Homo sapiens: one gene and its partners. The protein of the gene in region 1 purifies or fractionates together with the protein of each later gene. This does not show direct contact. Each region holds a gene or a part of one and is shown in the gene's direction. Other genes may lie near its edges.

What was found.
Region 2: the proteins of RMP64 (region 1) and UBE2O purify together in Homo sapiens (affinity purification with mass spectrometry, with the first as the bait; one study listed by BioGRID). This does not show direct contact.
Region 3: the proteins of RMP64 (region 1) and ATP2A2 purify together in Homo sapiens (affinity purification with mass spectrometry, with the first as the bait; one study listed by BioGRID). This does not show direct contact.
Region 4: the proteins of RMP64 (region 1) and YBX1 purify together in Homo sapiens (affinity purification with mass spectrometry, with the first as the bait; one study listed by BioGRID). This does not show direct contact.
Region 5: the proteins of RMP64 (region 1) and RPP40 purify together in Homo sapiens (affinity purification with mass spectrometry; 2 studies listed by BioGRID and IntAct, with this or other methods). This does not show direct contact.
Region 6: the proteins of RMP64 (region 1) and CASP3 purify together in Homo sapiens (co-immunoprecipitation; one large-scale study listed by IntAct). This does not show direct contact.
Region 7: the proteins of RMP64 (region 1) and POP4 purify together in Homo sapiens (affinity purification with mass spectrometry; 4 studies listed by BioGRID and IntAct, with this or other methods). This does not show direct contact.

Annotation. Positions count from the first base shown.
Region 1 is NC_000003.12:113,009,672-113,013,171, reverse strand, and holds part of RMP64 (nucleolus and neural progenitor protein), read left to right. Parts: intron 1-360; coding exon 361-438; intron 439-1,765; coding exon 1,766-2,127; intron 2,128-2,467; coding exon 2,468-2,529; intron 2,530-3,500. UniProt on the Homo sapiens protein: May play a role in cortex development as part of the Notch signaling pathway. Downstream of Notch may repress the expression of proneural genes and inhibit neuronal differentiation thereby maintaining neural progenitors.
Region 2 is NC_000017.11:76,391,555-76,394,152, reverse strand, and holds part of UBE2O ((E3-independent) E2 ubiquitin-conjugating enzyme), read left to right. Parts: intron 1-2,039; coding exon 2,040-2,243; intron 2,244-2,339; coding exon 2,340-2,397; intron 2,398-2,539; coding exon 2,540-2,598. UniProt on the Homo sapiens protein: E2/E3 hybrid ubiquitin-protein ligase that displays both E2 and E3 ligase activities and mediates monoubiquitination of target proteins. Negatively regulates TRAF6-mediated NF-kappa-B activation independently of its E2 activity.
Region 3 is NC_000012.12:110,343,747-110,347,246, forward strand, and holds part of ATP2A2 (sarcoplasmic/endoplasmic reticulum calcium ATPase 2), read left to right. Parts: intron 1-1,139; coding exon 1,140-1,225; intron 1,226-1,502; coding exon 1,503-1,636; intron 1,637-2,254; coding exon 2,255-2,372; intron 2,373-2,454; coding exon 2,455-2,724; 3' UTR 2,725-3,500.
Region 4 is NC_000001.11:42,699,418-42,701,861, forward strand, and holds part of YBX1 (Y-box-binding protein 1), read left to right. Parts: intron 1-1,363; coding exon 1,364-1,598; 3' UTR 1,599-1,629; intron 1,630-2,444. UniProt on the Homo sapiens protein: DNA- and RNA-binding protein involved in various processes, such as translational repression, RNA stabilization, mRNA splicing, DNA repair and transcription regulation.
Region 5 is NC_000006.12:4,997,628-5,001,037, reverse strand, and holds part of RPP40 (ribonuclease P protein subunit p40), read left to right. Parts: intron 1-406; coding exon 407-475; intron 476-1,133; coding exon 1,134-1,229; intron 1,230-2,196; coding exon 2,197-2,322; intron 2,323-3,410. UniProt on the Homo sapiens protein: Component of ribonuclease P, a ribonucleoprotein complex that generates mature tRNA molecules by cleaving their 5'-ends. Also a component of the MRP ribonuclease complex, which cleaves pre-rRNA sequences.
Region 6 is NC_000004.12:184,642,948-184,646,447, reverse strand, and holds part of CASP3 (caspase-3 isoform a preproprotein), read left to right. Parts: intron 1-1,725; exon of another isoform or gene 1,726-1,905; coding exon of another isoform or gene 1,906-1,917; intron 1,918-3,500. UniProt on the Homo sapiens protein: Thiol protease that acts as a major effector caspase involved in the execution phase of apoptosis. Following cleavage and activation by initiator caspases (CASP8, CASP9 and/or CASP10), mediates execution of apoptosis by catalyzing cleavage of many proteins.
Region 7 is NC_000019.10:29,609,283-29,612,782, forward strand, and holds part of POP4 (ribonuclease P protein subunit p29), read left to right. Parts: intron 1-1,126; coding exon 1,127-1,350; intron 1,351-2,579; coding exon 2,580-2,657; intron 2,658-2,834; coding exon 2,835-2,896; intron 2,897-3,500. UniProt on the Homo sapiens protein: Component of ribonuclease P, a ribonucleoprotein complex that generates mature tRNA molecules by cleaving their 5'-ends.

The DNA of each region.
Region 1 (3,500 bases):
CAACCTACAGGAATTCTTAAACTTTTGCTTCTTGGCCTCCTTTTCTCAGGAATTGCCTGATGCAGCCATTGCCAGAGACTGCCTGTCACTGTTCAGCACGTATTATCCTAAGAGCATTGATAGCTAGAAATTCTTAATCTTAGAAACTAAACTTTAAGAACTAAATTTAATAATGGGAACTCTAGCAGAGTGTTTATAACCATATTTTAAAGTTTTAAATTCTTAAATAGAATGTGTTTTAAGGCTTTAATACCTTTAAGAAAATTCTCTTTACTTCCAATATATTTCTTCATTCATGATTGTAACTTACAAAACCCACATTACTTTGATTTTGTTTTCTACCTTAAATTGATTTTCCAGTTTGACTGTGAAACATCTAGGTTTGCAAGAGTTCATTATTTTAAACCTTGTGATGGTTGGGCTGGTGAGCAGGTTATGGTATGTACATACCTCTGACATCCTTCATTTCTTTCTCATCTCCTTTCAGCCTAGGTTTCTTATTAGTAGTTTTCAAACTTATTTTCTTATGGGGTTATGGAAGGTGCAGGTATTCTCTTTCTTGGTTTGATCAGAGTTTTTTGAGGGTAGATTGGGAAGCCGAGTGCTGATGGCTGTATCAAAGGAGTAGGCTTTGTATCTCAATCCACAAGATCAGCCCAATCACTGAACAACTAAAAAAATCGGGAGTGACTGGTGTCACACTGAAATCTGGGTCATGGTAGGTTGTAGTGAAACATCAGTGGGCTTTTACTGAACATTAAAAAAATTAATGCCTGTGACTGGGAATTGCAGTAATAAAAAATTGTTGGTAGTAGTCATATTGCAACAGGCCGTTTAAAATGATGCTAATCCTGGGCTGGCTGTATCACTTGATTCTTTCTGTCACTCGGTTTCTAATTTTTAATGGCAATGATAAATGCAATTTTTGACCTTCTTATGTGCTAGACTATTTTCTTCCATCTCAAACACCACTGCTTTTTTGAGCATATTTAGTTGATGTATGCTGGTAATACTTGGAAACTAAAGAGACATCTCTTTCATGTCTCTCAGTACATATTGTGAAACTGATCTGATGGATAATTAGAATTTGCCCGTATCTGTAAGAAGGCCTGTTTTGGGCCATTTCAAACAATTAAGATTATTAGTTCTAATATGAATGTAAGAAAACATTGGATGGAGAAAAGAAAAAAAGTTTCTGTGTTTAGAGATTGAAAACCTTGCTTTGATATCTTAACCTGGATATCTCAAATAGTATTTCCTATTGTTTTATTTTTTATTCTACTTATTCTTAATCAGAGGTAACAATGTTTGATTACTAATCATATTATTTTAAAATGCTAAACCTTTGATACTCTCTTCTGTAATGAAAATAGCTTTAATTTTTGCTGATTATAATACATGCCTGTTTTAAGAAATTTAAAAAGAGAAATGTGAAGAACCTGAAATTTGCCTAAAATCTCACCATCTACCACACTTAAAACTTTGATATGCATCCTTTTGTACATTTCTCCATGTAGTACTTTTTGAATATATATATATCTTTCCTGGTAGACTGTCTTACAGTTTTTTGAGTAACATTTTATACTTGGATTTTTCTGTTGGGTTGGACTAATCTGGCTGTTCGCAAGTGTGCACTATAGTGTTTTTTATCTGTACTGGAGGACCTTGATAGCCATTTATTTTCAGCTTTCAATCTTGCAGTTTATTATGTAATCTGCAAATTGTAATTACTGGCTAATTAATGAGCTCCTATTTCTTTCTCTAGGGTTCTCTATAAAGGTGTCTTAAAAAGGTTGATTTTGTTATATGAGCCTTTGTTTGGATTGCTTCAAGAGGTCGCTAGGATTCAACCAATGCCTTACTTCAAAGATTTTACCTTTCCTTCTGATATCACTGAATTTTTAGGACAGCCATATTTTGAAGCCTTTAAGAAAAAAATGCCTATAGCTTTTGCAGCTAAAGGAATAAATAAATTGCTAAATAAACTGTTTTTAATAAATGAGCAGTCACCAAGAGCCAGTGAAGAAACCTTGCTTGGAATTTCAAAAAAAGCTAAACAAATGAAGATCAATGTACAGAATAATGTGGATCTTGGACAGCCAGTAAAGAATAAGAGAGTCTTCAAAGGTAATTTGCTTTGATACAGCACATACTCTAGTAAAACAAAAAACAAATAAAAAGAAACCTTTTGAAAGTAATAGTCATGCATTGCATAGAAAGAAATTCAACATCTCACATCTTAATTTTGACTCATATTGATTAGAGAGGTATGGTAATACCTGTGCTTTCTAAGCTTGAGTACTTTAAGTTGTTTATTTGTTTCTGTAGTTGCTTCCTAGTTATTTGCTTGCTTTATTCCTTTATTTTGTGGTAATTTGGCAAGAAATGTCATGCACTTAAGAATTTGTTGTAGATTTGAAAATAGTATGCCTAAGGTTTTGTATCTGCAATTTTTCCACCTCCACAGAAGAGTCATCAGAATTTGATGTGAGGGCTTTCTGCAACCAGCTGAAACACAAAGCTACTCAGGTTTGTCTGGCTTCATTAAATTTAGCTTATGATTTCTGCTAATTTGTAGAGGATGCTTCTTACCAAGGGCAGAGATTGAATCTTTTCATTTTATCCCCAGCTCTAAGCTTAGTGCCTTCTTAGTTGTCAGTGTGTGCTTCTGAATGAATAGAGGCAAGGGATTTTTAATACATCTAGTTAATTCAGTTAATAGAGTACCTTCAGAAATATTTTAGTAGGAGTTTCTCTAGAATTTTAAAGTAACCGTAAGATCTGTTGTTAAGTATGGATTGTACTGCAGCTTAAGAGTATAGGCTTTGCAGTCAGACAGTTGGTTTGAATCCTGGCTTTGGTACTAGCTGTGTGACCTTCTGTGAGTTTCCTGATCTCTCCGTACCTCTATTTTGTAATAGTAATATGTGCCTCATAGGGTTGTGCTAGTTTTAATGCATGTAAAGCGTTCGGTAGTCTGGAGTATGGTAAGCATTTAATTGGAGTTAGATGTTATTAGCTACGGTCATTTTGGTCATCATCCTCATCATTTTGTCATGAAGCTATTCCTTTACTCCTGTTGAGGTTCAAGTTTTAACATGATTGATTAATGTCTGTAAATTCTGTTTGTTCTGGACCTAACAGCATATAAGTACATCGGCATTACTGTTTTACTCAGTAACTTGACTTTTTTTTTTTTTTAACCCTGTCTTTGCAAAATGTCTACTTCTGGTATTTTTCATGGGTTAGTTTACTTCTTTTATTTAAGAATTCTTAAACATATTTTCTTGAACTTAAGGACTCCAGCTTCCATTGATGTTCTGTCCAATTTATGAATTCAGAGTGAGGAGTAATACTTTCTGTGCCAGGCATTGTTCTAAGTGCTTTTATATGCATGAAGTCATGTAATTATATCACAAAAGCTCTGTGAGGTGGGCATGCTTATTACTGTTTTCATATTTCAGATGAGGAAACTGAGGCATAGAAAGGCCAAGAAACTG
Region 2 (2,598 bases), on another chromosome or scaffold:
GATGGGCCCGGAGTAGCCACAACCCTGGAACAGGGCTAGGCAGAGTCCTAAGGCCCAGTGCTGCTTGAGATTCTTAATAACGCTTTTGGTTTTTTCTTGGGTTGTAGGAAAATTCCTTTTGAAAATTCTAGCCTGTCTCAGCTCTGCTGAGGGAAGATGGAAACAGTATTTTTTGTTTTGTTCTGTTTTCCCCACATCTCACTCAGGAGAAGAAAAGTAGTGCATTCCCTGGAGGCTCCCAGGGTGGCACCGATAAGAGCATGTGCAGAGGTTCCCTCGCCCCAGCTAGCGCTCTGCCTTCCCTGCTTCTCAGCTCATCACTGACCTCGCCCATTGCCCTGTCAGTTGAGATCCCACACACACGCGTGTGTGCACAGATGCACGCAAATAGATGCACAGATTCCAGATGTCTGTGGAGCGGTGGTCTCCCAACCTCCCCCATGGAGTTCAAACCCTCACTGTCAGCTTCTGGTTGTGAGACCATCCCCCCTTCCCCAGGCCTCACCAGCCTGGAACTGCCTTTCAGCTTGAAACTGCTTGTACTACTTGCCTTGTTGGGGATAAGGGTTGGAGCAGGTGTTTAGAGGAATTGTTTTGTTTTGTTTTTAAAAGACAGGGTTGGCCGGGCGTGGTGGCTCACGCCTGTAATCCCAGCACTTTGGGAGGCCAAGGTGGGCGGATCACAAGGTCAGGAGTTCGAGACCAGCCTGACCAACATGGTGAAACCCCGTCTCTATTAAAATACAAAAAATTAGCCGGGCGTGAGGAGACTGAAGCAGAGAATCGCTTGAACCTGGGAGGCAGAGGTTGCAGTGAGCCAAGATCACACCACTGCACTCCAGCCTGGGGACAGAGCTATACTCCATCTCAAAAAAACACATAAGCCAAAAAATAAAAGACAGGGTCTCACTCTGTCGCCCAGGCTGGAGTGCAGTGGTGTGATCATAGCTCACTGCAGCCTCAGCCTCCTGGAGTCAAGTGATCCTCCCATCTAAGCTTTTTGAGTAGCTGGGACTGTAGGTATGCACCACCATGCCCAGCTAATTTTTTATTTTTTGTAGAGATAGGGTCCCACTATGTTGCCCAGGTTGGTTTTGACCTCCTGGCCTCAAGCAGTCCTCCCACCTTGGCCTCCCAAAAGTGCTGGGATTACAGGTGTGAGCCATCACGTCTGGCTGAGGAATACAATCTTTTTTTTTTTTTGAGATAGCGTCGCACTGTCACCCAGGCTAGAGTTCAATGGCACAATCTCGGCTCACTGCAACCTCCGCCTCCGGGTTGAAGCAATTCTCCCACCTCAGCCTCCCGAGTAGCTGGGACTGCAGGCATGCATCACCACGCCTGGCTAATTTTTGTATTTTTAGTAGAGACGGGGTTTCACCACGTTGGCCAGACTGCTCTTGAACTCCTGACCTTAAGTGATCCACCCGTCTCGGCCTCCCAAAGTGCTGGGATTACAGGCACGAACCACCGCGCCCAGCTGGAATACAGTCTTAAAGTAATGATTTATGAGGAAAAACACCTGATAAGATAAAAACTCACTTCGAGTATTTCTCTTAGCCAGGGTTCAATGATTCCAGGCAAGGGCCAGGCACAGTGACGGCTCAGGGCTGTAAACCCAGCACTTTGGGAGGCCGAGGCAGGCGGATCACTTGAGCCCAGGAGTTCGAGACCAACCTAGGCAACATAGTGAAACCCTGTCTGTACACAAAATAAAAAAATCATCTGGGCACGGTGGCCCACACTGTAGTCCCGGCTACTTGGGAGGCTGCAGTGAGCCATTATTGCACTAGTGTACTCCAGCCTGGGGGACACAGCAAGACCCTGTCTCAAAAAAAAAAGATTCCAGGCTGTTCTGCAGAGAGAGATTTGTCCTTAGCTTCTCCACTGCTGGTGGCATCTGGAGTCCCAGGTGCTGCTCTTCCTGCGTGATCTGCACAGTGTCCTGGGAAAGAGCAGGTGCAGATGCAGATGCCACATGTAGGACACCCCCTTCCACCCCTGCCAACCTTGGCCTCCCTCCCTCCCTCCCTACCTAGGACCTCTTCTCAGCTCTCATCAAGGGCCCCACTCGAACCCCCTACGAGGATGGCCTCTACTTGTTTGACATCCAGCTCCCCAACATCTACCCAGCCGTGCCCCCCCACTTCTGCTACCTCTCCCAATGCAGTGGCCGCCTGAACCCCAACCTGTATGACAATGGGAAGGTGTGTGTCAGCCTCCTGGGCACCTGGATTGGAAAGGTGAGTATAGGGCCAGGCCCCCAGCCAAGAAGGAGGAAGAGCCACTGGTGGATAGGGGCCTGGGGAACAGAATTGATGGTGCCCTGTGTGTTTCAGGGGACAGAGAGGTGGACAAGCAAGTCCAGCCTTCTCCAGGTGCTCATCTCCATCCAAGGTACAGTTGGGCTGAAGCGGGGGTGCGGACAAGGGAGGGCCGGTGGAGGAAAGTGACTCTGATAGTCCCCCTGGCAGGTGGAGGGTAGGCCTGCATTGTGGGCCTCTCTCACCCACTGAGGGAAGGTGTCCCGCCCACACAGGTCTGATCCTGGTAAATGAACCATACTACAACGAAGCCGGCTTCGACAGTGACCGAGGC
Region 3 (3,500 bases), on another chromosome or scaffold:
TCATAGGTGGGATTTAAATAGATAATTGTCACCAAGTTATAAAATTTAGTCCCTGTTTCCATAAGAGAAGGGTTGCGCAGTGGCTGGTCCCTTTTATATATAAATCATCTCTTTAGCCCTCATCTTCCTCACCCCGGGTTCTTCCCCATTTCATAGATTGGGAAAGTGAGGTGAAATCACTTCCCTGGGATCCCATAGGAAGGCATTGTGTTTTCATAATATATTCACATGACTTCAAATTCAAAAAGCACACAATGGCATAGAATGGAAAGGGTTTGGGCCAGTCACTTCCCTCTGGCGTTGAGGTGCTCATGTACCCTGTGCCCTTCCGGAGAGATTCCAGCATGCTGTGCACACCTGCATGTTGACCCTTGTCTTGCCTTCTTCCTGCTTGTCAGATCCTTCCATATCCGGACATGCGTAGTGCCTCATCCTTGCAGCCAGCGGCCTTCATGCTCCACTGTAATTCGTGGGTTAGTGGGTATATGCACTTGTTGTTTTTGATGCTACCACATGGGGATATTTGCCTCGTCTGAACTCTGTGTATTCTCTGCTGCACCTTGTTGCTTCTTTGCAATAAACTTCCTGAACTCAAAGCTAATACTGGGGGGAATCCCAGAAGCTGCTGAGGGCAGGGCCATGCTGCTCAGTGTTCCACCCTAGCTCCTGACAGCATTTCCCTAGAAAACTGCTGCTGGGCCTCTAATGGAGCAAATAAATCTGTGTACAACTAGGCAGCAATAGTTTGTCCAAAAGTCCTGGTGTAATCTAGTCCCTCAAACTGTGCAGCCTTACATGGAGTACACACACACTTGCAGCCTTGAAGTACTACCCACTGAGGGGAGAAGGCACGGCAAGGGGAAAGGTTGGCACAGGATGGAGCAAGTGCTTTTTCTCACACATTCTGGAGGAAAAGTTATCCAGTTCTTCTGTTCTAGAAACACCCCTGTCCTTCAGAAACCAGGGTCTAGTTGCTCTGGCTACCAGGCGTGAGCAGGTGGTGGTAGCACCACAGGCCCCGGTTACCATCACTGTCCCATGTCTTTGATCTTCGTCCTTGTGGGGACTGGCCTGCATGGCCTCGGTGGCAGCGAGCCCTGCAGAGGCAAGTGCATCAGCATCACTGTGTTTGTTCCCAGGTTACGTCGGCGCTGCTACCGTGGGTGCTGCTGCATGGTGGTTCATTGCTGCTGACGGTGGTCCAAGAGTGTCCTTCTACCAGCTGGTACTCAGTCACCTTTCTTTCTGTACCTTACATGAGAAGTGTTGTGAGGCCTTGACCTTTCTGTGGTTTCGGTATCTATCAAATCATCTTAAGACTCAGACAATAAACAGTTACATCTAAGATGATTCTGAAGGACCAGGGCTTCTCCGAGAAATTGGGGTAAACCTCTTGGCTGGCTCTGCATTCAGGCTGGTCTGTGCTAGGCTTGGTATGGGGTTGGAGCCTGGACTTGGGAAATATACTGGGCTGATAGGAATTTGATTGGATTTTCTTGCAGAGTCATTTCCTACAGTGTAAAGAGGACAACCCGGACTTTGAAGGCGTGGATTGTGCAATCTTTGAATCCCCATACCCGATGACAATGGCGCTCTCTGTTCTAGTAACTATAGAAATGTGTAACGCCCTCAACAGGTTAGTGCACCTTCACGGCAGGCTGAGGCGAGCATGGTGACTGCCAGGGCACCGGGGAATTGTGTGTAGTCACGGTTGATTGAGGATCACAGGACAGTTCTTCCCTTCCCAAAAGAAAGGAGAACAGGCAATACCAGTTTTAAAAGCATGAGCTGTCGTCACCTCCAGGAAGTAGTGGGAGTGCTTAGCCCTGTGTTTCTTAGGAGCTCTTCCTTAAAAGAAACCGTGGGGGCCAAAAATAGGAACTTTGGTACCCCTGTATGCCAGCACCCACAGGGAAGGAACCTCACCCTTTCACACAGACAAATGGTACCATCCAGTTAAGCCCGTGACAAAAATGGAAATTTCTAAATAGCCCAAGTCTCCAGGGCAATTGGGAACAGCTTTGAACCCACTAAGATGGGGTCTGCTATGCCAAAACATAGATACAGAATTCACAGTTTGTCCTGCATTAGGACATTCTCTTCAACTTTGCCACTGTAGAAAGTGGAGGTAGGTCAGCGGATGGTGCCACATTAACAGCCGCCTTACTGAAGTGTAGTCCAACAGGGTCTTACTGCCACTGTGACACGTGCCTTGCCTTGGGGGTGCGTTTCCCCACCTCTCCTTGCTCTGCAGCTTGTCCGAAAACCAGTCCTTGCTGAGGATGCCCCCCTGGGAGAACATCTGGCTCGTGGGCTCCATCTGCCTGTCCATGTCACTCCACTTCCTGATCCTCTATGTCGAACCCTTGCCAGTAAGTGGTTGGGTGGGGCTTGGGACCAGCCACCTCCTTCCAGGGGAGGCTGGAGGCGTGACACGTCTTCCCTGTGTGTCAGCTCATCTTCCAGATCACACCGCTGAACGTGACCCAGTGGCTGATGGTGCTGAAAATCTCCTTGCCCGTGATTCTCATGGATGAGACGCTCAAGTTTGTGGCCCGCAACTACCTGGAACCTGGTAAAGAGTGTGTGCAGCCTGCCACCAAATCCTGCTCGTTCTCGGCATGCACCGATGGGATTTCCTGGCCGTTTGTGCTGCTCATAATGCCCCTGGTGATCTGGGTCTATAGCACAGACACTAACTTTAGCGATATGTTCTGGTCTTGACTGACAGTTTTCCATAAAGAAGATGTTTAACTTAATCAATTAATTTTTTTATTGTTTAAAGCAACTGTCTATTTCTGCTGAATTTTCACATGAACATACTGGCTGGTGATGGAGGTTTCATACTCTAGATTTTGTTTTGCTTTTTCTGACTCCAGTGGGGCAAGATTTTCCTTTTTTATACACATAATTAAAGTGTCCATTGACATGTACAGAGAACTAACACTATTTTATGCAAATATTTTTTTGTAGATGAAAAAGCATGTACAGTGTTCTGTTTAATACTCATCCTTGTATAAAAAAAATAGTTGAGCCAGCAGACATTGTCAGCAAATTAATTGGCAGCAGATTTTAGGAAATGAATGTGTGTGGTTTTTTTTCTAAAACTAAATAGCATGTATTGTGTCTTTTGCATGATGATCCGGATTTAATTTGATATCACAGTCTAATTTTTATTCATAAGCCAATTTTTCTGCACTGAGCAGAGTCTTGCTACCTCAGTCAGTATTGTTTTGGTTTGCTACTTCCCTCACCCACTTTGGCCTCCGTTCACCCCACCCCACCCCACCTCTCCCCACCTTACCCCCGCCCCGCTTGGCTTCTTCTTTAGGATTGTGATGGTTCGTTCTGTTTACATCAGTTTTAACGAGAGGTATGCCTGTACTCGCTTGTGCAGAAAACATTGTTCCAGATTCAATCGACTGGGTTTATGTCCCTTCACATAGTTTTTAAGGTTATTTATTTAAATGTCTAATGTATTTTATTGTAACAGACATTGT
Region 4 (2,444 bases), on another chromosome or scaffold:
TCTGTGTTTCTAGCCATTTGGGCATCAGGCTCAGGTTGGGCAGAGAGTTGGATTTATCCAGATTTGGTTTATCCAGATCTGGTTTGATTTATCCAGATCTGGTTTATCCAGATGAAGACACTGGGGTAGGGATTGGTCATATGATTAGTGGTAGACTTTATACTTGGATAAAGAGGGGAGAAAAGGGGAAAATGAGGGTTGTTTTTTTTTTTTTAAATTGTTTTGTAGAAATGGAGTTGCACTGTGTTACTCAAGCAGTCTTGAACTCCTGCCCTCAAGTGATCCTCCCCAAGTGCTAGGATTACAGGTGTGAGCCACTGTGCCCAACCTTGGAGTGAGATGAATAGGTGATAGAATCGCTGTATTACAGGTCCTAGATTAAGAATGAGAAAACAATAAGGAATTACCTAAGAAAAATAGGAAGGTACATAATTGGAAAGTTGAGTGGTATAATTGAAAAAACCCAGGTAGAAAACAGCTGGACTGGGAGGTCAGTCTGAAAGCCCAGGTTATTAGAAGCTGTTACACTCGAACCTTAGTAATAACTGCAGTAAGAAAAAGATAGTAAATGGAGCAGAATCCAAAATAAGATGGAAAGCCTAGTTTTTAGAAACTGGGAGAGTTGATTTAGAAGCCACAATAAGGTTAGAACAGTCACCACTGTAGGGTTGCAGAGAAAAGTCAGAACAATTTTGTTGAAGATTCATCATGAGTTCCAAAAGATGTGGGGAAAGAGTTTTAGAATGTACAAAGGTAAATGTGAATTTATTCCCATGATGACTCATGGATACTAAAGGCCTGGGGCTTTCTGGAGTGCTCAGAGTATGGGCAGAGGAAAGGCCAGGAATCCATCATTTCTGAGCACTGGGGGAAAGAAAATCCCAAAATTTAGTATCTTTATCTTGGTGATTAAAAGACTCAAGCCTGTAATCCCAGCACTCTTTGGGAGGCCAAGGAGGGAGGATAGCTTGAGGTCAGGAATTCAAGACCAGCCTTGGAAACATAGCAACACATCGCTACTAAAAATCAGACATTAATGAGACGTGGGGGGCTTGCCTATAGTCCCAGTTACTCAGGAGTCTGAGGTGGGAAGATCACTTGAGCCTGGGAGATTGAGGCCACAGTGAGCTGTCATCATTCCATGGCACTTTAGTCTGGGCAACAAAGCAAGACTCTTCCCCCTACTCAGCATCCCCCCCCCCCCAAAAAAAAAAACCCATCTCTTTACACAAATTGCCTACAGACCACTTGATACAGAATGGGCCAGACATGGTGAGTTAGTTGTGAACCAACTGGTTACACTGGTGGGTGTGTTGAAGAGAGAAGGTTTTATCATTCTTAAGTTTGACACCGTTCATTGCAGGGGCCCTCCTCGCCAAAGACAGCCTAGAGAGGACGGCAATGAAGAAGATAAAGAAAATCAAGGAGATGAGACCCAAGGTCAGCAGCCACCTCAACGTCGGTACCGCCGCAACTTCAATTACCGACGCAGACGCCCAGAAAACCCTAAACCACAAGATGGCAAAGAGACAAAAGCAGCCGATCCACCAGCTGAGAATTCGTCCGCTCCCGAGGCTGAGCAGGGCGGGGCTGAGTAAATGCCGGCTTACCATCTCTACCATCATCCGGGTAAGCAAGCTTGGATGGCCATCCATTTATGGCAGTCGTGAGTGGTGACCATTTCGTTTTATTAATGCAAGAGTAGAAAAACCTCAGTTCCATCAGATAATGAAAGCCATGTTATTTATAATGTGTTCTGCCCTATTCTTAATTACCTAATATTTCATTTTAGGAATATTGAATATCAGAGTCATATTTGGCCACCCTTCAGCTAGTTCTCAATTCTGACACTGGAGACCTGTATTTTCATGAGTATTTTGAACTATTAGTGCTTTCTATCAACTTTTCTGAATGAATTTTATGATTTCACTAGTAAACAGAGGAAAGTTTTGCTAGCTGTATTCTGAGAAATATGTTAATTACATTATTATTTATGCATTATTTCAAAAAGGAAGTGGGGATAGCTGTTAGAATTAACCTAGATGGTGACAAATAGAGTCTGTTTGGAGAAAGTGGCAACATTAATATAATCTTTTAATCATTTCTAATTGTTTTTTTTTTTTGTTGGTTTATGTTGTTCCCGGAAAAAGACGAGAGTGTTTCGTGTCTAAAAAACTCCTAGAATGACACGTGGTTTATCATGGTTTATTTAAACTGCCTGTAGATTAATAATAATAATTCTCTGGCAGACCACATGATACAATTACGTTCTTGTTACTTTAGCTCATTAGCTCACTTGTTTTTATTACCCTTAATTCCAAAATTAAGGGATTCTTTTTCATTTCGCTTTTTACATGATATCGAGAGGTACGTGATTGTTGTTCCCTCCAAAATTAGCATTCAACCAGTGGTGCTTTTGGTTTTTTCCCGTTTACTATTTGCTG
Region 5 (3,410 bases), on another chromosome or scaffold:
GGCTGTTGGTCAGGGAGTGAACTAGCTGGAGCTTGGTCTTCTGCAAGCTTGGTCTTCTGCATGCTTGGTCTTCTGCATGCTTGGTCTTCTGCATGCTTGTTCTTCTGCATGCTTGGTCTTCTGCATGCTTGGTCTTCTGCATGCTTGGTCTTCTGCAAGCTTTGTCTTCTGCATGCTTGGTCTTCTGCATGCTTGGTCTTCTGCATGCTTGGTCTTCTGCATGCTTGGTCTTCTGCATGCTGCAGCTTACCCTTAGCAGATGTTTGGTTTATTGAGTGAGCTGGAGCAGGGGTAGAAACTGACCTTTAATGACCCGGAAGACTGGTTATCTTGTAAAAATAATCCACTAACATCTTGCAGGTGTAATTTCTTGTTTTAAATTTTTCCTCTGTACTTTCTCTTCCAGGTTCTTGCTATGCACTAACATACAATACACATATTGATGAAGATAATACTGTTGCCCTGCTACCAAATGGTAACACTTTATTTTTTCATCTTTCTTTAATTGTTAAAAAAAAATGCATACTGTAAAAAAAAAAAAAAAAAAGTCAGCTGGGCACGGTGGCTCACGCCTGTAATCCCTGCACTTTGGGAGGCCAAAGCAGGTGTATCACCTGAGGTCAGGAGTTCGAGACCAGCCTGGCCAACATGGTGAAACCCTGCCTCTACTAAAAATACAAAAATTAGCCGGCGTGGTGGCTCATGCCTGTAGTCCCAGCTCCTTGGGAGGCTGAGGCAGGAGAATCGCTTTGAACCTGGGAGGCGGAGGTTGCAGTGAGCCAAGATTGCGCCACTGCGCTCCAGCCTGGGAGACAGAATGAGATTGTCTGAAAAAAAAAAAGAAGATATTCAAAAGAATGAGTATACCATGACTTATTTATTTCATCTTTAGTAGAAATTCAGATTATTTTAAATTTCACTATTATAAATAATATCCTTGGATGTATAATGTATAAATAATATCTGTTACAAGACATGTATACACATAAATAATATTCTTGTGATATAAATAAGATCCTTGTATGCAGTTTGTTACATTGATATCTAACTGCTCAATTTGCCTTGCTTTCTTTTAGTCAGACAACGTAAGTTCTAGTTTTGGTATCTTATGGGAGTTATTATTTGATTTATAGGGAAATTAATTTTGTCACTGGATAAAGACACTTATGAAGAAACTGGACTTCAGGGTCATCCATCTCAGTTTTCTGGCAGAAAAATTATGAAATTTAGTAAGTATCATGTGTGTTCCATCTGTTTCTAATCTTCTTGTGGCAATTTAAATTTAAATGTTTGAATTGCCTCTAATCTCTTTGTTCAAAAAAATGTGGCCTTTTAAAAAAAATCTGTCAAACTTCTGACTCGAGCTTCACAGAGGATAGGATGATGCTTTTAAGTTCATTTCTTTTCAGCTGTAGATGCATTTAATAAAGATTGTAGACTTGGACTGGTCAATTAAATATATATGTTTCGGGTTAAACCTTGGCAGGCCAAGGCGGGCGGATCATGAGGTCAAGAGATTGAGACCATTGTGACCAACATGGCGAAACCCCATCTCTGCTAAAAATGCAAAAATTAGCTGGGCGTGGTGGCGCATGCCTGTAGTCCCAGCTACTCAGGAGGCTGAGGCAGGAGAATTGCTTGAACCCGGGAGGGGGAGTTTGCAGTGAGCCAAGATCGCACCACTGCACTTCAGCCTGGCGACAGAGTGAGAGTCCATCTCAAAAAAAAAAAAAAAAAAAAAAAAAATTCCAAGTACTGAACCCAAGATAGGAGTCTACAACTTATTCTTAATAAAGAATTTCCTTTGGTTTCCCCAAGTCTTTATGATTACTAGTAGAAATTCACCCATGAGTGAAGAGATGTTTTGCTGACAGCGTCTGGCTCGAACATCAATAGCTAAGGCCGCCACATCCATAAGTAGATTAAACCTGACCTCTCAAGGTCCTCTGCCCTTGGTCTTTGACCTAGGAAACATATAAATTGAAAATGTCTGTTTTTATTAGCTCTCAAGGTTAGAAGTGCCCACCAAAGGGATCTTATTTATTTGGCAAACCAAAGGGAGTGGAAGAAGAATAAAATAATTTTACTATCCATAAAATTTCCCAAAATTCTAGTTTTTAAAAATGTAACACTTTTTCCATGGTAGAAGCTGTACGTATATGAATGAAATATATGTTCTTTTTTTCATTTTTAAAGTTGTTTCCATTGATTTGATGGAATTATCCTTAAACTTGGATTCTAAGAAGTATGAAAGAATATCTTGGTCTTTCAAAGAAAAGAAGCCATTGAAATTTGATTTTCTTTTGGCTTGGCATAAAACAGGTATGAGGAATAAATTATGTAATGATACAGTGATTTTGAAAGTAATTGTTAATTAAAGAGGAGTAATGGAGGATTGAATGGTGATTCACTCTTTAGTCAAGGAATATTCTATACGTATATATAAAAATATTATTAAGGAAACTAGCCCTTCTGACATCTCTGAAAACCATAGTTCAGGATCATGTAGGCACGCAGGCCTTTCTGCCTGCGTCTCTTTGGGTTATATGTAGATCCAGAGATCTTGAGAGTGGCTTCAGAGCAGCTAAATTTTATCTATTTCTCCCCTTTCCTCTCTCCAGCTTACCTTGAACAGCCTTGACTATAATATTTTTAAGTAGCACCAATTATATACACAATCTGCTTATTTATTATCACAGGGTACTGACTCAGGCCTACCATTAAATGTCAGATGAATTTATTCTAACTTTTAATTGATTAGGACACTAAATTTAGTTCAAAGTTTGCTATTCACCACACAGCGTAATCTGCCTAAAACGGCCATGTATGTTGCTCCTTTTAGAAGTGTATCTTTGACCCAGATAATAATGGATCAAGTCATCAGGAATTATGGTGTAGTACTCTCTTTTGGAGGATAGGAAGCATGGTGGTCTGTTTTAGAAATAGCCCCATCTGTCTGCTCCTCATGGGAAGTGTCTCGTCACTGGGTGCTCCAAGTTGCTCCCATGAGTCCTAGGTCTGGCCTTCGGTGCCTCTCCTTCCATATATGGTAGATAGAAAAGAGGGCAGAAAGGCTTATTGAAGTTTCAGTTGCGTGAAGTCTTCTATGCAGATCATCCAGACGTTGGATTCTGGATAGCTCCCTATTCCTAAAGCTCCTAACTATTTTAAGGATTTGTCAGGACTGTGAAAGTTCTGAGATTTCCTCATACTTGCAGGCTAACTAGGTAGCCTGCTACAGTCTCAGGGATGCTGGCAGAAGACACATAAGCCCTGGGTCAGAGACACAGGACTTAATTCCTCAGAGGAATGGTAGTAGCCAAAATGTATTAGTCAGGGTTCTCCAGAGAGAAAGGACCAATAGGATGGATGGATGGATGGATGGATGGATGAGAGGAGATTTATTAGGG
Region 6 (3,500 bases), on another chromosome or scaffold:
TAGTGGAGAGTGCTCTGTACTGTCTTCCTGGTCACGTGGCCCTTGCCAGAGGAAAGGAAAGGATGGTTTGTTTGTATAGTACAATGGAACTTATTTCAATGTATTCTGTATTTGATTTTACATTCCTGTTCTCATATTTTTACCTTAATTACATAACAAATATTAAAAGATTGACTTCACCAGGCCCAGTTACAATCGCCAGTTTGATAATTCTTATACGTACTCAAATGAATTCAGAGACCAGATGGGAAAAGATTTTGATAAAACCTCTGGTACATCACAACTGAAGTCTTTTCTTGTCCAAACTATTGTGAAACAGATGTTCTTTCTGTTTCATTTGCTAAATCTGGAAACGTGACTGCTTTTGAGACTTTGTCCTCTCTGACAGGTAATAAATATAATCCTGATATTTTTCAAGTTGTTTGACAGAAGTGTAATCTCCCCAGAAGTCCTGCTGGACAGGCTTCACTTTTCCTTTGGAGGAACACAGAGATACAGGGAATATGTTTTAATGACATATACCTAACGCTGAACATGAAACCAGTTATTTTACTTTTATTATTATTATTTTTAGAAACAGCCTTGCTGTGTCACCCAAGCTCAAGTGCAGTGGTGCGATCATAGCTCACTGCAGCCTCCAATTCCTATGCTCAAGTAATCCTCTTGCCTCAGCCTCCTGAGTAGCTGGGACTACAGGTGTGTGCCACCATGCCAGGCTACTTGTTTTTACTTTGTTATAGAGATGGGGTCTCTCTGTGTTGCCCAGACTGGTCTTGAACACATGATCTCAACCATTCCTCCCACCTTGGCCTCCCAAAGTGCTGGGATTACAGGCGCGAGCCACTGTGTCTGGCCTATTTCACTTTAGAAGTAAATTGAATGCCACATGCGAAGTTTGTTAAATTTTTTTAAAAAAGGAAAGAAAACACAAAAGTAAACTACCTAGTCGCATCAGAAATGCCATAGTCATTTTTGCCATTTTTTCATTCATTAGAATTCAGTGCATTATGTTATTTTGTTATCTCTGCAGTAACTTTCTATCATGTTATTTATTTTCTTTGTCTTATTTAAAGCTTCTGAGATTATGGATTTTTGTTTCCTTCCCTGAAGTTAAGTGTTATCATTCCTATATAGTACTAAGCTGTCTACAGAATAGTGGGAGTCTGCCCTCTTGAGTTGGGAAGATCCTAGTTTGAATCTTGGCTGTGCGACTTTAAAGTTCATTAACTTCTCTTAGCCTCAGTCACCTGAACTCTGCAGTGGGGATCCTTATGCCTCAGAGTGTCATTGGGAGGACTCACGAAAATACGCTTGTACTTTGAGTTCAGTACCTAGCCTGTATGAGCCAGCATTAAGAGGGACAGTCATCACGCAGCGCTTTGCACACAGCTCTCACGCCACATCCTTTGGCTACTGTTTTGGTAAATCTTTACTAGTAAATGTTTCTTAAAAGCATTTACATTCATGGACATGATTCAGAAACTAACAGTTGTTTTTTAGGTCTCACTTTGAGATTTAAAAACCCTTAGGGCAGAGACCAGATTTTATTTCTTACCTCAGAGTTTCCCTGTAGGACAGGAACCAGCAACAGCCTAATGAGCTGATTAAGAATTTTAGAGATTTAAAATTTAAATTAGGATTGCCAGTTTTAGAGACTGGCACATAAATGTTTTCATTTAAGGCAGTGACTGTTTCCTTTAGGATATGATTTTTTATCTTTCTAAGATGAGATCACCATCCTCAGAATAATTTGTACCCCGCTGGGCACTAGCTAATGGAGGTGATGTCATGCTAAGCAGCACTTCAGTGAGTTTTGCGGGAACCAAAGCTCTGCTCCCAGGAGTGTGGATTTGGTGCTTTCATGTGGAAAAAGCGGATGATGACAAGTAGAGAGCAAATGTGCGCATGTCTGATGCTGTAAGGATTTCCTTTACCATCATATAAATTTTTAAAGTATATCAAAATAAACTGATAACTGAGAAAATATATGTTGTTCAGATACTAATAATGAAGTTAATGAAGTCCACTATAGTATTTGTCCCTGAGAAATCTTTATCAAATATTTTAAATCCTATTGTAAAATAATGTATTTTTTCTTTCAGTTTTAGAGACTGGCAATCCTAATTTAACATCTCCTTTTGAATTCCCCACCACAGGCACACTTTCACACATTCACTCTTTAATAACAGGTTGTTTCAAATTGTTAATACTTTATAGCTTAATATAGAAATTTCACTTTAGAAATTAATTTTTATTTCTCTGCCTTAATGCTATAGATGTTGTAGTCTGCTTTACTTCAGTATTGTAATGAGTAGTTGGCTAACCACCATGTAAATAGGGAGAACATTCTAGTTTTTTACTTGTGTAGGAAAACACAGCTTGAAATGTCTAAGTATCTATTTTAGAGTGAAGTAAATTTATACTGACAATATTTTTTTGTGTTTGAAGACCTGACTGTTACAGCGTTGGTGGCAAGTGTTAAGGGATCCAGGAACTAGACAAGTGATTCTGAGACCTGAGTTCCAGGTTTCTAAGTAATATCAGTTGGTCTACTGAGAACTTTGCCATAAACATATGTGTTCAGAAATTTCCTTTCTTAGCAGCAGCATCCTGAATTGAACAGAATTACACACACATCAGCCCAGTAAGAAACAATTCATGTTAAGTCCATTGCTATGCCAGGATAAATCTTTTAAATCACAATTATTTTTCCTATTTATATTTTGTCAAATAAGAATGTTCTAAAAACCAAAATTTCTGTTTTCTTTTTTTTTTTTTTTTTTTTTTGAGACGGAGTCTCACTCTGTCGCCCAGGCTGGAGTGCAGTGGCGCGATCTCGGCTCACGGCAAGCTCCACCTCCCGGGTTCACGCCATTCTCCTGCCTCAGCCTCCTGAGTAGCTGGGACTACAGGCACCCACCACCACGCCTGGCTAATTTTTTATATTTTTAGTAGAGACGGGGTTTCACCGTGTTAGCCAGGATGGTCTTGATCTCCCGAACTTGTGATCCGCCCGCCTCGGCCTCCCAAAGTGCTGGGATTACAGGCAAAATTTCTGTTTTCATTTAAGGCAGTGACTATTTCCCTTAGGATGTGATTTTTTTATCCTTCTAAGATGAGATCACCATCCTCAGAATAATTTGTACCCTGCTGGGCACTAGCTAATGGAGGTGATGTCATGCTAAGCAGCACTTCAGTGAGTTTTGCGGGAACCAAAGCTCTGCTCCCAGGAGTGTGGATTTGGTGCTTTCATGTGGAAAAAGCGGATGATGACAAGTAGAGAGCAAATGTGCGCATGTCTGATGCTGTAAGGATTTCATCTACCATCATATAAATTTTTAGAAGTATATCAAAATAAACTGATAACTGAGGCAATGTATGTTGTTCAGATACTAATAATGAAGTTAATGAAGTCCACTATAGTATTTGTATAGTATTTGTATATTACAGTACTCTGAAAAGCTGGTCACTATTTAAAGTTTCCATTACCAGTCACAAGG
Region 7 (3,500 bases), on another chromosome or scaffold:
TAGTTAGCATCTACAGGTGCAAAGCTGAAGCAGAGTTCCCACCATCATACTGTGAGCTCCCTCGAAGGCTATATGTACCCTATCTTCCCATCCCCATTGCTCTCCCACAGAAGGAAGGCTGCGTTACTATTGACAGATCAGCATCAGTCTGTCAGCCTCAGTCTTAGCATTTAGCACCTGGCTAGTGCAAAAAGAGCTCAGGAAACAGCCCAGCCAGGAGACAGGCCCTCAGGAGAGAGAACTGCCCAGGTCTGTGGCAGGCATGAGGGCAGTGGCATTGCCACCAAATGAGGAATCCGTTATTGGAACTCCAACCTGAGAGGTAGTGAGCTTGGAGGGTTTCTTTGTTTGTTTGTTTGTTTGTTTGTTTGTTTGAGAATTGCACACAATTACGACAGTCATTTTTCCCAGAAGTCCTCTCTAAGAGCCTGTGCTCATTCATGGTAAGTTGACGCCCTGCTCTCAGTGACACCCTTCAGAGAGAGCGAGCCTGGGGCCTGAGATGCTCTCGACGGTACCTTCCTCCAAGTGATGGTCTGCGGGGCGGGAGCGGACCTTTTGGAGAGTGGCCACACCATGCCCACAGAGCTGGAAACCCGGTTAAGGAGTATTGTCCTAAGGGCACAGTGTCAGGGTCCCTGCGCCCTGAGGCTTGGCCGACCCTGGAGCCCTAGTTTTGCTGTTTTCTGTAGTGTTAGGATCACTTCCTCCATAGCTTAGTGCTACTCTGAGCTCACTTTCATCTGGTCATGCCTGGTTGAATATATTTGTTATACATTTCTCAAGCTTTCTCTTCTGCCAAGGATGAGAGAATTCTTCTTCAAGATAGAAAGGTTTTGGTCCTTTCAGAATAACCTCAGAAAAGCAGGGCCAGAGCAGGAAGTGAGCGTTTGACACGCTGTTGTGTGTGACAAACGGTCATGAATTGGTGTGTGAGTGTGACTTACATCTCGGCAGCTGTGGGTAGCAGATGCATGGCGGATGAGCAGGTTGAGAGCCTCAGTAGGTAAAGGGATGGGCCCCATTTGCTCTTGCAGTAGCTGCCGGGAATGGCGGGCGGGATGCCTGGGATCCTGGGCTGCCCAGACCGGAGCAGTGAGCGCCGCACCCCCTTGTCCGCCTGCAGCCTTCAGGAGCACAGCGGGCCGAGGCCTTCGTGAGGGCCTTCCTGAAGCGCAGCACGCCCCGCATGAGCCCGCAGGCCCGCGAGGACCAGCTGCAGCGCAAGGCGGTGGTCCTGGAGTACTTCACCCGCCACAAGCGCAAGGAGAAGAAGAAGAAAGCCAAAGGCCTCTCTGCCAGGCAAAGGAGGGAGCTGCGGCTCTTTGACATTAAACCAGAGCAGCAGAGGTAACCCGAGCTCCCCACGTCTTTCTGCCCGCGGTGCTTACCCTTCTTGGTGTGTGAACTTGGCTGAGTGGCTGGGGAGGCAGCCTGGCTCCACCTAAGCTAAGGGGGCCTCTCTGTCGTCTGCCACAAGAGGGCAGCCTTCCTTTACCAATCTGGGCTGTGTTCAGCGAGGCGGGTGAGACAGGACTCATTGTCTGGCCTCTCTCCTCACCTTCAGGAGTAAGACCCGTGCAAGTACATCTGTTGCCCATGGCAACAGGCTGTTTGTCCTTCGGCTTTGTTAGACAGAAAAGAGGAACTGATATGTTTTTAGTGTGTATTACTTTGTAGCTTTTGATAGAGCCAGACAGTCACCCACTCGGGTTTCATTGCCAAAGCAAGATGTTGCCCACACGTTTCAGAAGTTTCCAAAAGGAATGCATCACTGTCCTGTCCTGTGGGAGGATGTCTTCCTCCAGCCGACCCGCCATCCCTCCTTGGTGACGGGTCTGAGTGTGGGTGTCTTGGGGCTGTCTGTAGGCTTTTGCTTGGAGATCAACGGCCAAATAGCCTCCCACGCTCCAGAAGACGCTTAAAGTATGCCATGCTGTTCCCGGCCCCACTCAGGAGATCAGCTGGGCCTCAGGTGGAGAAGGGGCTGCTGCCTCCCAGGGTTTGCCTCCCGGGTGGAGCCCAGGTTGGGTTTGAGCTTAAGGTCCTCATTTCTCTAACCTAAGGCTTTGTGGTAACGGATTCCCCACAGGATATCAAGACTGGAGATAATGGCCCAGAAGAACGCTGTTGGGGTCCTTGCCCCTGCTCCCCGCTTCTTCTCCCCACCACTTGCTTGCCCACCTTCCAGACCAGCCTGCTGCCTCACATGAGGACCTGCGTGACAACCAGCAACCCCTGCTTTACTGGGGGCTTACTAGGTTCAATTTCACGTAACAGAAAACCTCAAAATAACAGTAGCTTCAACAAGACTCACGTTTATTTCTCTCTCATGAAAAGAAGTCCAGGTGGACACCGCCCTGGGCTGGTGTGGTCCTACCAATGAGGAAACTGAGGTTAGAGAGGTGTAGGTTCTTGGTCTCGGTTATCAGCTCAATTGCTCATCGTCGGATTTGCACATAGTTCCTAATGATCCCAGGTTGCAGTTGTTGGCATCAAGTCAAGCTCTGTGCTATTTGGACATTGTCATCCCAAGCTCATGTTGTCTAACTTTTTCCCTGTTTCTGACTTTGCTGCAGATACAGCCTTTTCCTCCCTCTCCATGAACTCTGGAAACAGTACATCAGGGACCTGTGCAGTGGGCTCAAGCCAGACACGTAAGTTGCATTCCTGAAGCTTTGCTCTTTGGGGTGGATCTCAAGCCTCTGATCATTGTAAATGCGGCTTCAGGAACCAGCGTTGGTATTGCCTGGCTGCAGACGGTTAAAGACCTAGTTGCTTCTTTTGGAACTTTTTATCATGATGTAAACCAAGGGCTTCTGTTTACCCTGCAGGCAGCCACAGATGATTCAGGCCAAGCTCTTAAAGGCAGATCTTCACGGGGCTATTATTTCAGGTAATTTACCTAAGAGCGTGTAGCACATGGCCATCCAGAGGTTCACTCTGTCACTCTGTGGAGACCCAGGGCGTGTGTTCTGTTGGACACACTCTTTACCGTGTGGATTCCCTGAGATGGCCCCCAGTCACCATCATCCCCACGCTAAGGGTGGGAGATGCTTCTCGCTGGCTGTCTTAGCCAGTCCGGCCATTTGCTGGACACACCCTAAGTGGTCTCTGTGTACCTTCTCCACACAGGGACCCCTGTTGGTACCCTAAAGGGCACAGTGGCTGCGAGCACTCACCCACGGCCTGGGATCTTGAACACAGAATCCCTTTCATCCAATGCTGTGGTTTCAAATGTCAGCTACACCTGACAGCCCCCAAGGTGACATCTCCAGCGTAGGCCTGTCCCCTGAACTCCAGGCTCAGGCATCCAGCTGCCCACTTGACATAGCCACCTGGATGTTCAGGGGGCATCTCAGACTTTACATAGCCAAAGCTGCCACCGATTCTCCTCACAGCAACCCCTCCTGGTCTTTTCCATCTCAGTTAATTACTCAGTTATTTACACTGGTTGTTCAGACCAAAAACCTAAACAGTGTCTATGTTTCTTCTTTCCT